Homo sapiens: one gene and its partners. The protein of the gene in region 4 purifies or fractionates together with the protein of the main gene of each other region. This does not show direct contact. Each region holds a gene or a part of one and is shown on either strand. Other genes may lie near its edges.

Region 1 (3,500 bases), on a different chromosome or scaffold from region 4:
TATGGAACACACACCCTTGGCTGTGTGTTTGCTTGGGACAAAGCAGACAGGAAGCTCCTGCCCTGGCTGGGCACAGTGGCTCACGCCTGTAATCTCAGCACTTCGGGAGGCCAAGGTGGGAGGATCACTTGAGCTCAGGAGTTTGAGACCAGCCAACATGGCAAAACCACATCTCTACAAAAAATGCAAAAATTCGCTGAGTGTGGTGGCTTATGCCTGTAGTCCCAGCTACTTGGGCAGGAGAATCACTTGAGCCCAGAAGGCGGAGGTTGCAGTGAGCCAAGATTGTGCCATTGCGCTCCAGCCTGGGCTACAGAGGGAGACCCTGTCTCAAAAAAAAAAAAGGAACACACACCTTCACCCATGTGGCATTCCTGCCCAACATGTTTAATCTGAATCTGTGACAAAACAGCTAGAAAAATCCAGAATGTGGGCCTTTAAAGTCACCTGGCCTGGTTAATGTTATGAGAAACTTAAAGAAAAAGGGCAGAGTGGGTTGAATTTTTTTTTTTCTTTTTTGGATAGAGTCTTGCTCTGTCACCCAGGCTGGAGTACAGTGGTGCAATCTTGGCTCACTGCAACCTCCACCTCCCAGGTTCAAGCAATTCTTGTGCCTCAGCCTCCCGAGTATCTGGGATTACAGGTGTCCGCCACCACACCTGGCTAATTTTTGTATTTTTAGTAGAGACGGGGTCTCACCACGTTGGCCAGGCTGGTTTTGAACTCCTGACCTCAAGAGATCCACCCGCCTCAGCCTCCCAAAGTGCTGGGATTACAGATGTGAGCCACCACGCTGGCCTGACAGTTGGGGAAATTTTACTACGGAGTGGATACTAAATGATATGACAGAGTAAATGTCACTTTCCTTAGGTGTGAGCATGTTTTGTGTGCAAATATCTTTCTTTTAGGAGATGGCTGTCTAGGTATTTAGGAGTTAAGTGCGACAATGTTGCAATTCCTCTCAAATGATTAAGCCAAATATACATATGCATATATGTTTTCACAATATATTCAGCAAAATCTAACTATATATTCATGGAGAGAGAGAGAGGAGGAGAGAGGGAGAGACAACAGGATAAAATGCTAAGCATTGAACCTAAACAAAGGGCTTATGTGTATTCATAAACCTTTAATGCTTTCAAATCGGGAGGTGTGGAAGTTTTCACACACTTGGCTGGGCGTGGTGGCTCACGCCTGTAATCCCAGCACTTTGGGAGGCCAAGGTGGGCAGATCACGAGGTCAAGAGATCGAGACCATCTTGGCCAATATGGTGAAACCCCGTCTCTACTAAAAATACAAAAATTAGCTGGGCGTGGTGGCACGCGCCTGTAGTCCCAGCTATTCGGGGGGCTGAGGCAGGAGAATCACTTGAACCCAGGAGGCAAAAGGTTGCAGTGAGCCAAGATCGCACCACTGTACTCCAGCCTGGCGGCAGAGCAAGACTCTGTCTCAAAAAAAAAAAAAAAAAAAAAAAAAAAGCCAGGCGCAGTGGCTCACGCCTGTAATCCCAGCACTTTGGGAGGCCGAGGCGGGCGGATCACAAGGTCAGGAGATTGAGACCATCCTGGCTAACACTGTGAAACCCCGTCTGTATTAAAAAATACAAAAAATTAGCCAGGTGTGGTGGCGGGCGCCTGTAGTCCCAGCTACTCGGGAGGCTGGGCAGGAGAATGGGGTTTCACCATGTTAGCCAGGATGGTCTCGATCTCCTGACCTTGTGATCTGCCCGCCTCGGCCTCTCAAAGTGCTGGGATTACAGGCGTGAGCCACCGCACCCGGCCATTAATATCTATCTTTTCTTGTCTTTTTCTTTTTTTTTTTAGACAGGGTCTCACTCTATTACCCAGGCTGGAGTACAGCAGCCTGGGCAACAGTTTATTGCAGCCTTGATCTCCTGGGCTCAAGCCATCCTCCCGCCTCCCAGTAGCTGGGACCACAGGTGTGTGCCACGACGCCCAGCTAATTTTTTTTTTTTTTTGTAGAGATAAGTCTATGTTGCCCAGGCTGGTCTCAAACTCCTGGGCTGAAGAAATCCTCCCGTCTTGGCTTCCCAAAGTGATGAGATTACAGGTGTGAACCACCATGCCTGGCCTATGTATCTATCTATCTATCTATCTATCTATCTATCTATCTATCTATCTATCTAATCTCTATCTCCCATACTAGAAATGTAAGCCATGGCGGGGCATGGTGATGCAGGCCTGTAATCCCAGCTACTCAGGAGGCTGAAGCCCCAGAATCCATAGACATAATGGATTAAACCATTAGCCAGTGGTAATCCCCTCAACCTTCAATCCCTCACCACTCCCCAGAGGTGAAAGTCCCAACCCTGTAATCCAGCCTTAGTCTTTCTGGTGACCAGACCTGAAGCTGCCTAGGGGCTGCCAGCTCTCAGTGAACTCATTAGCATAGAAAAAGACATTTACCATTTTGGAGATTCCAAGGATTTTAGGAGTTGTATGCCAGGAAACAGGGACAAAGGCCAAATATATATGTCACAATATCATAGGAAGGTTTGCAATTTTAGGGTGGTCAGGGAAGGCCTTGCAGATCTCCCCAGAGGGCAGGAGGGAACAGGCAGATGGCATTGGTGCCACCAGGTCCCTGCCCTGCTTACCTATGTGTGGCGGCATCACAGCCACGTACTTCAGGCCTGATTCCCGCAGCACCTTGTGCATCCGGATGTGGTCATCAGTCACAGCCTGCAGTCGTGGGGGCACCTTGGTAGGGTCCCAGAGCAGGAAAGCTGGAGGGAACACAGGGCAGGATCAGCCTGGGCTCTCTTGTCTTTTTTTTTTTTTTTTTGAGACAGAGTGTCGCTTTGTCACCCAGGCTGAGTGCAGTGGCGCAATCTCGGCTCACTGCAACCTCTGCCTCCCGGGTTCAAGCAATTCTCCTGCCTCAGCCTCCCCAGTAGCTGGGATTACAGGTGCACACCACCAGGCCTGACTAATTTTTGTATTTTTAGTACAGACAGGGTTTTGCCATGTTGGCCAGGCTGGTCTCAAACTCCTGACCTCAGGTGATCCACCCTCCTCCACCTCCCAAAGTGCTGGAATTACAGGCATGAGCCATTGTGCCCAGCCAAGGGCTCGCTTGTCTTGATGCCAGGACAAAACCCTGCCATGGCTGACCATTGCTTTCCAGTTGCAAAAACAGGGGAGTCCTCTGGGGCTCCTCTTTCCCTCACACCCCAGGTAAGAGCTGTCTGCTGATCACAATAATTCCAAATCTGACCTCTTCTCACTCCGCCTGGTCCTGTCCACTGTTACCTCTTGCCTGGACCAGCCCAGCAGCCTACTCCCTGGTCTCTCAGCCCCTCCTTCCCTCCTCCCAAGGAGCCCGTGAACACCCCTATCAGTTCACATCCATAGCTCCATCTCACTCAGGGTAGAAGCAAAGTCCCCATGGCCAGCCCTCAAGGCCCCACCTGATATGGCCCCATCAGCCCTCTGACGTCCTTGCCTACTCTGCCTACCACTCTCTCTTACACGCCTCT
Region 2 (2,506 bases), on a different chromosome or scaffold from region 4:
TGGCAAAGTAAGTGCCAAACGAATCCTCAACCAGTTCCTGCAGTTTGTAAAATTGAACATTTACCTGCAGTGCAGTGTTTAGACCATGTCTGTGTAAGTGGAAGGGGCGAACTTACGAGGTCGATGCTTGTTTATAAATCATGGGCTATAAAGACAGTCAAAACATCTGTGCTTTCTGAAGATATTTTAAGTTAAGTCTTCACATTTTTGTTCAAGTATCACATTGAAGGAAAATAATCTCTTACAATTCCATCTCCTCAACTGATGGCTCTGCTCTTTTTCTAAAATTCTTTGGCTTTATTTATGTGAATTTCTTCTACTCTTTGTCCGTATTTCACATTTCACTTTGGCATGTGAGTGTATGTTATTTAGGAATGAGAGTAGGTTCAGTTGGGGAGGAAGAGATTTGAGTCACGGGCATCATTTCGTCAGCTGTGCTGCCATGGAGGGCACATGGGCCAACCCTTCTGTGAGTCATCTCCGCTGATATTCCGTCATAGCTGAATTTTAAGACTGCTGGTTGCATGAAGGATTTCTTAGATGTATTCAGCGATGTAGCTTACAGGTGCTCAGGGGGGTAGAAAAGATTGAAAAAGTAAGAGCCTTCAGAAAAGGGAGAGTCCATATTCCTAGATGAAGACAGAAGATTAGAGAGATGAGAAGAAGTGGTAAAAGATCTAAAAGACATTGTCTTAGCCTACTTTATGTATTTGTTTATTTATTTAGAGACAGGGTCTGTAGAAGCACAGGCTGAAGTCCAGTGGCGCGATCATGGCTCACTGCAGCTTCAAATGCCTGGGCTCCAGCAATTGCTGTCTCAGCCTCCCGAGTTGCTGGGACCAAGGTGCGTGTCAGCACGCCCAGATAAATTTGTTTTACTTTTAATAGAGACAAGGTTTCACTATCTTGCCCAGGCTGGTCTCAAACTCTTGGGCTTAAGAGATCCTCCCATCTTGGCCTCCCAAAGTGCTGGGATTACAGACGGGAGCCAGTGCCCCCAGCCCAGCCTACTTTAACTGCTTTTTTAACAACCCACAGGTATTGGTTGCTCTGGCATCTGAAGAACTTGCCAAAGGCTGGACCCAGTGGTGAGTGTCCCTGCTGCAGACAGAGAACCCCAGTGTGTAGCTAAAAACGCTTTCCCCGCCCAGTGGGTAGTGTCCCCCACAGACAGTGGTGGAACCCGACACGTATCTGATAGGCTTTTCCTACTTGGTCCTGTATCCGTCACCACCTTCCTGTCACTGTCTTTCTCAGGTATGACCTCACGGAAGATGGGACGAGGCCTCAGGCGATGACATAGCCGCAGCAGGCAGGAGGCGTCCTCTTCAGCGTAGCTCTCCACCTCTACCCGGAACACACCCTCTCACAGACGTACCAATGTTATTTTTATAATTTCATGGATTTAGTTATACATACCTTAATAGTTTTATAAAATTGTTGACATTTCAGGCAAATTTGGCCAATATTATCATTGAATTTTCTGTGTTGGATTTCCTCTAGGATTTCGCCAGTTCCTACAACGTGCAGTAGGGCGGCGGTAGCTCTTGTGTCTGTGGACTCTGCTCAGCTGTGTCCGTAGGAGTCGGATGTGTCTGTGCTTTATTATGGCCTTGTTTATATATCACTGAGGTATACTATGCCATGTAAATAGACTATTTTTTATAATCTTTACATGCTGGTTTAAATTCAGAAGGAAATAGATCAAGGAAATATATATATTTTCTTCTAAAACTTATTAAATTCGTGTGACAAATAATCATTTTCATCTTGGCAGCAAAAAGTTCTCAGTGACCTATTTTGTGGTGTTTCTTTTTGAAAAGAAAAGCTGAAATATTATTAAATGCTAGTATGTTTCTGCCCATTATGAAAGATGAAATAAAGTATTCAAAATATTAACATTTTCATAAATATAAGGATGTATTATTGAGAAGTAAGTTGAAGGGCTTATAAGGAAAAATGTTTTATAACTGAGTAATATATTAAGAGAATTGTCATGGTTCATAAATCACATTATGCTAATCTGAAATTTCTTACATAAAAATGAAGTGTCTTATGTTTATTTTAATTGCTGTTGTAACTTACTCATGAAACAGTATACAGACACCTTGTACTTTTCCTCAACTGTAAGAGCAGACTTTCAATGTTAGCAATTAAGCTGTTGTCAAACAATCAGTCATGAGCTTTGTTAATTTTCAATGTTTTCCCAGCCTATAAAAAAAGGAAGGTACACGTTGTCCTTTTAAAGGTTGTGAGGTAGATTGGAGTGAGTAGACAGGATATTGCATTAAAAATTGAAAGCTCGATCTCATTATTGTCAGGAACCCCCAGTGTGACCTCACACATAGGATGTGGGACCTTTGAGCCGATGTGCACTGGCCACCACCAGGGTTGGGGGCGCCACAGCTGCGAGCCCGGCCCCTGCTGTTCTCAGCAGCCACTTCCCAGGCTGCCTCACTTTATGCCATGACTGACCTTAATATTGGGATATTGTTATGCAATTTTT
Region 3 (3,987 bases), on a different chromosome or scaffold from region 4:
TCATACACCCATCTTATACTTCTTTTATGACAATTCCTATAATTAAGGTACTATTGTCCTCGTCTTACAGGTGGGGCAGCCAAAGAGCTTGCCTCAGGTTGTATAACTAGTGAGTAGCTTGGGGTACAGGACCCCAGCCACCCTTCCTCCATTCAGTCAAGTCACTAGGGTGGTTGCAGACTTTTATCTTTTGTGCTTTGGTGGTGAGCTGGAAAATCCTCAGTTCTGGCTGTCCCCTATCGTAACCTCTATTTCTTCCTCTTAAAAAAAAGAGGAGTGGGCTTGGAATAGCTGGAGTTCCTGGGCCCTCAGGGGATCCAGGTAGCTGGGGTTGGGAGTCTGCAGACTGCATCTAATACGCAAGAAGCTCTCCCCAAACTGAGCTTTTGGCAAGGAAACGGCCACACAGGCCAAAGAAGACGTCAGCTCACGTGCTCTGGGCTGGAAGGATAGTAAGGCAGCTGCTTAGTAAGGCCTCACGCTGATCACAAGCTCCGATGAGCAATTATATATGTCTTTGATTAATAAAAAATGGGGCAATGAATGGTTAATCAATGCAGTCTGGCGGGAAGGCTCTTTCAGAACCTGGGGGGCGGGGGTGAGGCAGGGAGTCATCTAAGGGGTTTTTGGGAGTGAAAATATGGGGCAGTCCTCCAGGGGATGGTTTCTGAAAAGCCCTCAGTCCTGGTTCTTGGCTTCCTGATTCTGTGGTTGGGATTTTTTTGGCAGCTCTGGGAGTGTGAAACTGGGAGAGACGGTTAAGCTGGTGAGCAAATAGGAAAAATATGTTCCCTGCCAACCCAGCGGTCAAGGCAAAATGCACAAATAGAGTGTGTGTGTCCCTATGCCCTCATGTGCTGTCTGTGTGTCCTCTGGGTGCTGGGTGTGACATTTTCCCTAGGTGGGCCTGAGCGAGTAACAGCATTCAACTAACTTGGTTAGGGGAGGCAGAGGCAAGGGGGCTGGGAGGCTGAAAGGCAGCGAGGAGGGAGGGAAAGACACCGCTGGGGTTCTAGGGGGTTCTAGAGGGAGAAGTTTCAAGAGGGAGAGGTAAAAAGGGCGCGGGAGGCTGTGAGCAAGGGAAAAGAAGAAGGAAGTGATGGAGAGTGGGAGGTCTGCCCCAGCCCCTTCCGGGCGGGCAGGAGGGGGCGGAGGCGAGCAGGGGACTGGGAGGGGCTGCGAGAGGCGCGAATGCGAACCTGGCCCGTGCGGAAAGGGCGCGGAGAGCCCCGGCGCGGAGCAGGCGGGTAGGGCGAAGGGTCCCCTTTCGGGCGCCATGGGGCGCCGAGCGCGGCCTGGCCCCTCGGGCTCCTCTGCGGGGAGGGCAGGCCGCAGGCTGGAGCGGGGTGCGGAGGCTGGCGGGGAGCGGCCCCCGGAGGCTTTCCTGGTAGAAGTTGATGCGAGGAAGGGCGGCGGGGACCAGGTTTGCGAGTCCTAGGCGAGGGTCATGGGAGTTGGGGGTATTTCTGGCAGTAGAATGGCCTGCGTCGTGACTAAACTAGCCCTGTGACCTTGGGCAAGTTCCTGAAATCCATGGGAGCTTTTGTTTCATTGTCAGTAAACTGAAGATAACACCAACTTGGCAGCGGGAGTTTGTGTCTTCTGTATGAAATCTCCCTGCCTCTGCACCTGGTTGAGTTGCTGTCATTATTTTAGGGGACGGTATTCAGAATTCGAGCGCAGGAGCTCCGCTTCTCCACCTGCTCCCGGGGAGCTATTGGGTAAGTCGTTTATCTCACCTGTGACTCCAGGTGGCCATCAAGACCTGCCTCTCTACTTGCCACGTGGTTACTCAAATGCAGTGCCTAAGATGATGTATTGGAGTATTTATTCCCCACATTTGCTGCCAGCGGCCATGATCATCCTGCCTCTTAATGCACCTCACAAATAACTCTAGTCTACCTTTCCCTTTCCCGCAGGCCTCCTCTTCCAGCAGCCTCTATCTTTATTCTACAGGATCCAGAGAATCACCCGCTGATGGTTTTTGCCCAGGCCTGAAACAACCAGAGAGCTACGGGAAAGGAAGGGCTTGGCTTGCCAGAGGAATTTTCCAAGTGCTCAAACGCCAGGCTTACGGCGCCTGTGATCCGTCCAGGAGGACAAAGTGGGATTTGAAGATCCACTCCACTTCTGCTCATGGCGGGCCAGGGCCTGCCCCTGCACGTGGCCACACTGCTGACTGGGCTGCTGGAATGCCTGGGCTTTGCTGGCGTCCTCTTTGGCTGGCCTTCACTAGTGTTTGTCTTCAAGAATGAAGATTACTTTAAGGATCTGTGTGGACCAGATGCTGGGCCGATTGGCAATGCCACAGGGCAGGCTGGTAAGGGCAGGGATGACTTTTCTAAGGAAGTTAAGTCTGGCTCCCACGTGGTGGCAAGGAGCAGGAAGGACTCTGCCCCCTGCCCACCCCTCTTTCTATGATGAGAGGAAGGGTCAGCAGCTCTCACCCCACTTGATCTGGGAAGTGCCTGGGAGGGAGGCACCAGCTCCTGAGGGGTAATTAGGGGCAGCCACATTTCAACTCAGCTTAAGGGACAAGTTTGCGACCGACAAGCTGTCTGAGGTGGAGGGGAGCCCAGCCTGTGTGCTCATTTGGCAGGAAGGCTGGGATGCATGGGAGACCTTTTTTCTACTCCAGACTGCAAAGCCCAGGATGAGAGGTTCTCACTCATCTTCACCCTGGGGTCCTTCATGAACAACTTCATGACATTCCCCACTGGCTACATCTTTGACCGGTTCAAGACCACCGTGGCACGCCTCATAGCCATGTAAGTCCCAAAGGCCAGCCCAGGCAAAGGTGGGTAAGAGGAATCCTTCAGGCAGCAGCCTAGCTTGGAGTGAAATCCAGAGTCAGACAGCCCGGCCACCCTGCCAGGCACCACACCTGCAGCTCGCTCCCAGCAGCTGTTAGGAACAGCCCCAGGCAGCGGGACTCTCTCTAGACTTGCCCACTTCACCACAGCCCCACTTCCATTTCCTTACCTCGTTCCCTGCTCTGCATAAATGTGGCTTCCCTATCACGTGCTGAATTGAGCCGGAGGCCAGGGTGACTTCCTGTAAGGGCTGGCTTGGAGCCAGGGTTACAAAATTAGCAAAACCTAAAATTGCTCTTCTCTTCCTTCACCCCAAGGATCCTTGTCCTCATCCCCTGCACAGCCTCACATCCAGGTTGCCCAGGCTTCATCCTCATCCTCCTCACCGCCCCCCCTCCCCGCCCCAACAGCCAATCACTCCCTAGGGGCTTAGCTAATAGGAAGTTTCTTTGGTATTGCCACTGGTGGAATTTCAGGTCCCTTCTGACTGGAGGGGAGACTGGGGGGGTTTCCTGTGCAGATGAGTCAGAAGGTTCGGGACGTGATCTCACACACAGTGTGTTGCTGCATCCTAATCTCGTGCTCTGTGGCCAGGCTCAGTGGTAATCAGCGGCCTGCTGGGGGCTGATACAGCTCAGAGCAGGTGCTCCCAGGGAGGCACATGTGAGATTGGCTGTCAGAGAGAGAGACGGGAGGGCTGGCTGGGCCTGCCTTTCCGGAAACAGCCAGAGTAAAGCCAGTCCCTTACAATTTAAGCCTTTGGATGCAGAATGACTGTACCTCAGTCCTTCTTGGTCCTTGGCTCCCTGCTACCTCCCCTTTCCTCCCCTTCCTTTGTCCCCTCCCTCTTCTCCAGCCTTAGGATATTGCTTTTTTTTTTTTACTCCATGCCTTACAAGACCCCCAAATGCTAAGGGAGCCTGATAACCTTGGGACTGTAGTCCTGAAATCATAGCACTCTGAGCTAGATCAGTCCGATCATTTCTTTTTATAGAAAAGGCTCCTGAGGCCCAGAGAAGGACAGCGCCTTGCCCAAGGTCACAGAGTGAGGAGGAGTTAGAACTCAAGGCCTTGATTTGCAGACCAGGCACTAACCCCTTTCTCCAAGGGGTTGGGCTGTTGGGGCTTCCAGGTGGGAGGACCTTCGCTTTGCCCATTCTGTCCTGGCTAAGTC
Region 4 (3,500 bases):
ATCTTCAAAAGAATAAAGAAAACTGAGCTATATTTCTCATAAAGTTTATTTGATCTTGAAATTACCACATTGGTCTATTGGACATTTTTTAATTTTGAAATACGTTTTGGGATTTTAGTGGTCACATATTGTTCTTTCTCAAAACATTCTCCTATTTCATTATTTTAGTATTACTCATCAATTCTCAACTATGGTCGAAAGAATAAAATAATTATGATGGAATTAGGATTCCAGTAAGACTTTCCTAAGACTTTAAGTATTTTTTTCATCTTTTATGAGGTCTGCATCCTAATTTATTTGATACTGTTTGTAAGTGGACAGATGCTAAGGGCAGATGTGTATACAAAGGTGATTTGGAAAAAAAAATGCAAAAAAGAATTATTGGGTTGACCATTTGAATTGTTTGTAATCTAAAAATGAAAATATGTTACAAATTATGGAGCAAAGAAGATTGTTGTCCTCTTTTCGTCAAAATAAGCCATGAAAGGCTTAAAAATTCCTTCAAACATTGTGTTTTAATGACGCAAGTGCAAAAAAAAAAAGCAGGAATAATGACAAGCTGTAACCAATTTGAGATGTATCTGAAATCTGGAAGTGGTATTTACAAGATGGATATGTTGTAGATTCATACATGAAGTTAGTAAGCAATTATTTGCACTCAGGTCGTGCCCATTTTTGGTGTACATGACTTTAGGGAAACTGGGAATTGAAATTCGGATTTGCTGTATTTATTTCTTATGAAAATTTTTAACAAAGTTTTTTTCCTGCTGTCTTTTTGCTCTCTAAATTATTCTTCAAGTGTCATGAAAATAAAGGAAATAAAAAAGCCTCTTTGGACTTATATGATAAAAATATTGATGACTGTTTTCCCTGTTATACTGAAGATTACAAGCTTCAGAGGAGAATATAAATTTAACAGGATTGCCCATGAATTAATTGTTTAAAGCTGGATGATGGGTATATGAGTTTTATATACTTCTCTCAACTTTTTCCTGTGTTTGAAATGATCTGTAATAAAAGTGTTGGGTTTTTTTTTTAATTTTCCCATGTGAATCTAATGATTTACCAATGTTGGGAACTACAGGTGTTATTTATTTTTGAAATTTCAGTCACTTAATCTGTCAGAGGATCACCTTCCTCATCTGTTTCAACAGAAAGATGTAGAAATGCTACAGTCTGGGTTGCAGGTGGTCGGGCGATTGGGTGAAGGCCTTAACCAGTGTAACTGCTATAGCTACCATGCACTCTGCACCCACTATGCTCATGTTGCATTGGCAGGAGAGGAGAGAGCACTTTCCTCTGCTCCTGCACTTGGCTTTGACGTGTAAAGAGACACTTTGCTCTAGGGATTTAAAGACTTGAGCTATCTATAGAATGTGATTTAGAGAGGATACCAAATTATTTAAAATAATGGTCATCCTCTCAAGTTAGAAAACTATAGAATCTAATAAAGTTGAGAACATTTGCTTACATAAACATTTAAAAATTGATGGTTAGTTTCATGCATATGATACATCTAAGTTTTATTAGTAGCCAGCTGGTAATAGTTTTTACAACTTTTAAAGTTAGCTAAGTACAGCCATACACCACATACCATTTTGGTCAACAGTGGTCTGCATATATGCCTGTATGATGGTGGTCCCATAAGATTACAGTGGAGCTGAAAAATTCCTATTTAGTGGCATTGCAACTGTCCTAACTTGGTAGTACAATATATTGCTCACATGTTGGTGTTGATGCTGGTATAAACCAACCTATTACCAATCTAGTTTTATATAACCTTCCAGTCATAAAAAAAAATACAGCACAATTACGTGCAGTACATAACATAATTCTTGATAAACAATTATGTTACTGGTTTATGTATTTACTATGCTTCTTATTGTTTTAGATTATATTACTTCTGCTTAAAAAAAGTTGACTGTAAAACAGCCTCAGGCAGGTCCTTCAGGAGGTATCCCAGAAGAAGGCATTGTTGTCATAGGAGATGACAGTTTCATGCATGTTGTTGCCCTTGAAGACCTTTCAGTGGAAAAAGATGTGACAGTGAAAAACAGTGATATTACCTTGACCCTATGTAGGCCTAGGCTAATGTGTGTGTGTCTTAGATTTCAACAAAGAAGTTTAAAAACTAAAAAATTAGAAATAGAAGCTTATAGAGTAATGGTATAAAGAAAAAACATTTTTGCACAGCTGTACAGTGTCCTTTTGTTTTAAACTGTTAGTAGAAAAGGGTAAAGTTAAATTTTAAAATTTATAAAGTAAGAAAGTTACAGTAAGCTAAGGTTAATTTATTAATGAAGAGAAAAATTTTTTAATTTAGCGTAACCTAAGTGTACAGTGTTTATAATAGTCTATTGTAGTGGACAGTAGTGTCCTTGGCCTTCACCTTCACTCATCAGTCACTCGCTCACTGATTGACCCAGAGCAACTCTTTGTCCTGTAAGCTCCATTCATTGTAAGTACCCTATACAGGTGTACCATATTTTATCTTTTACACTGTATTTTTACTGTACCTTTTCTATATTTAAGTATGTTCAGATACACAAGTACTTATTGTTGTATTACAGTCGCGTGCAGTATTTGGTATAGTAACATGCCGCACAGGTCTGTAGCATTGGAATAATAGGATATAACTGTATAGCTCATAGGTGTGTAGTAGGCTATATACCTAGGTTTTTGTAAGTACGCTCTTGTGATGTACAAACAACAACGAAATCACCTAATGATGCATTTCTCAGAACATATCCCTGTCATCAGTGTATGATTGTATTGTATTTTCATTGTTAGTATCATAAAATGCATTAGTTACGTAAGTAATTTAATCTCACCAGGAAAGATTCCAACAATTAAAGCAAAGGCTTTCACCGATCTACCTGTGTGTCTTTTTACATCTTTTTCTCTTTGTTTACATATGTATAGTCATTTAAAATACATGTTTTTTTCACTGTTATAGGAAAAATATAATTGGAATCATGTATATTTTGCAGCCTTGTTAAAGTGCCTTTTGGAGTATATTCTGTATTAGTATACATAGGTCTACCTCATTTTTTCATGACTGCATTGTATTTCATAATATAAGTATACCAGTTTATTTAAACATTTCAAATGTCAGAATCTCTTACCCAGGACTTGGAAATTACTAGTATACAGTCACGTTTAATCCCATTGTTTACTTATGAAGTTTTATGAAGTGTGTGCAATTGATTGCCTAACACTTATTTAATAGGAAACCTTTCCCTAGTATAGGAACCATGAGAGTTTTGTTTTTTTCTGGTGTATTCTGATTATATATAATATGTGTAAATTGGTGCCTCTGTGTCTGACTTCATAAAACTTCTTGAAAGTTGCCTCATCCCCGTAAGCTAAAACTGTTAAACAAAATGAAAATATTTAGAGCATATAACAGCCTCTTTTGCTGGAAGGTTTTATAGAAATAAAGTTGCCAGCATATTTTTAGAAGAGTAACTGCTCCCTGACACCAGAATGGCTTATTTTGA

What was found. Proteins that work in one complex are often made in the same cells at the same time.
Region 1: the proteins of ARL6IP6 (region 4) and BLVRB purify together in Homo sapiens (affinity purification with mass spectrometry; 2 studies listed by BioGRID and IntAct, with this or other methods). This does not show direct contact.
Region 2: the proteins of ARL6IP6 (region 4) and ESYT2 purify together in Homo sapiens (affinity purification with mass spectrometry; one large-scale study listed by BioGRID and IntAct). This does not show direct contact.
Region 3: the proteins of ARL6IP6 (region 4) and SLC43A3 purify together in Homo sapiens (affinity purification with mass spectrometry; one large-scale study listed by BioGRID and IntAct). This does not show direct contact.

The regions. Positions count from the first base shown.
Region 1 is NC_000019.10:40,448,746-40,452,245, forward strand, and holds part of BLVRB (flavin reductase (NADPH)), read right to left. Parts: intron 2,748-3,500; coding exon 2,619-2,747; intron 1-2,618. UniProt on the Homo sapiens protein: Enzyme that can both act as a NAD(P)H-dependent reductase and a S-nitroso-CoA-dependent nitrosyltransferase. Promotes fetal heme degradation during development.
Region 2 is NC_000007.14:158,733,004-158,735,509, reverse strand, and holds part of ESYT2 (extended synaptotagmin-2), read left to right. Parts: coding exon 1-7; intron 8-1,038; coding exon 1,039-1,088; intron 1,089-1,257; coding exon 1,258-1,303; 3' UTR 1,304-2,506. UniProt on the Homo sapiens protein: Tethers the endoplasmic reticulum to the cell membrane and promotes the formation of appositions between the endoplasmic reticulum and the cell membrane. Binds glycerophospholipids in a barrel-like domain and may play a role in cellular lipid transport.
Region 3 is NC_000011.10:57,424,322-57,428,308, reverse strand, and holds the start of SLC43A3 (equilibrative nucleobase transporter 1), read left to right. Parts: upstream 1-1,187; 5' UTR 1,188-1,247; exon of another isoform or gene 1,248-1,423; intron 1,424-1,656; 5' UTR 1,657-1,721; intron 1,722-1,919; exon of another isoform or gene 1,920-1,956; 5' UTR 1,957-2,136; coding exon 2,137-2,320; intron 2,321-2,599; coding exon of another isoform or gene 2,600-2,638; coding exon 2,639-2,768; intron 2,769-3,987. UniProt on the Homo sapiens protein: Sodium-independent purine-selective nucleobase transporter which mediates the equilibrative transport of extracellular purine nucleobases such as adenine, guanine and hypoxanthine.
Region 4 is NC_000002.12:152,725,120-152,728,619, forward strand, and holds part of ARL6IP6 (ADP-ribosylation factor-like protein 6-interacting protein 6), read left to right. Parts: intron 1-3,500.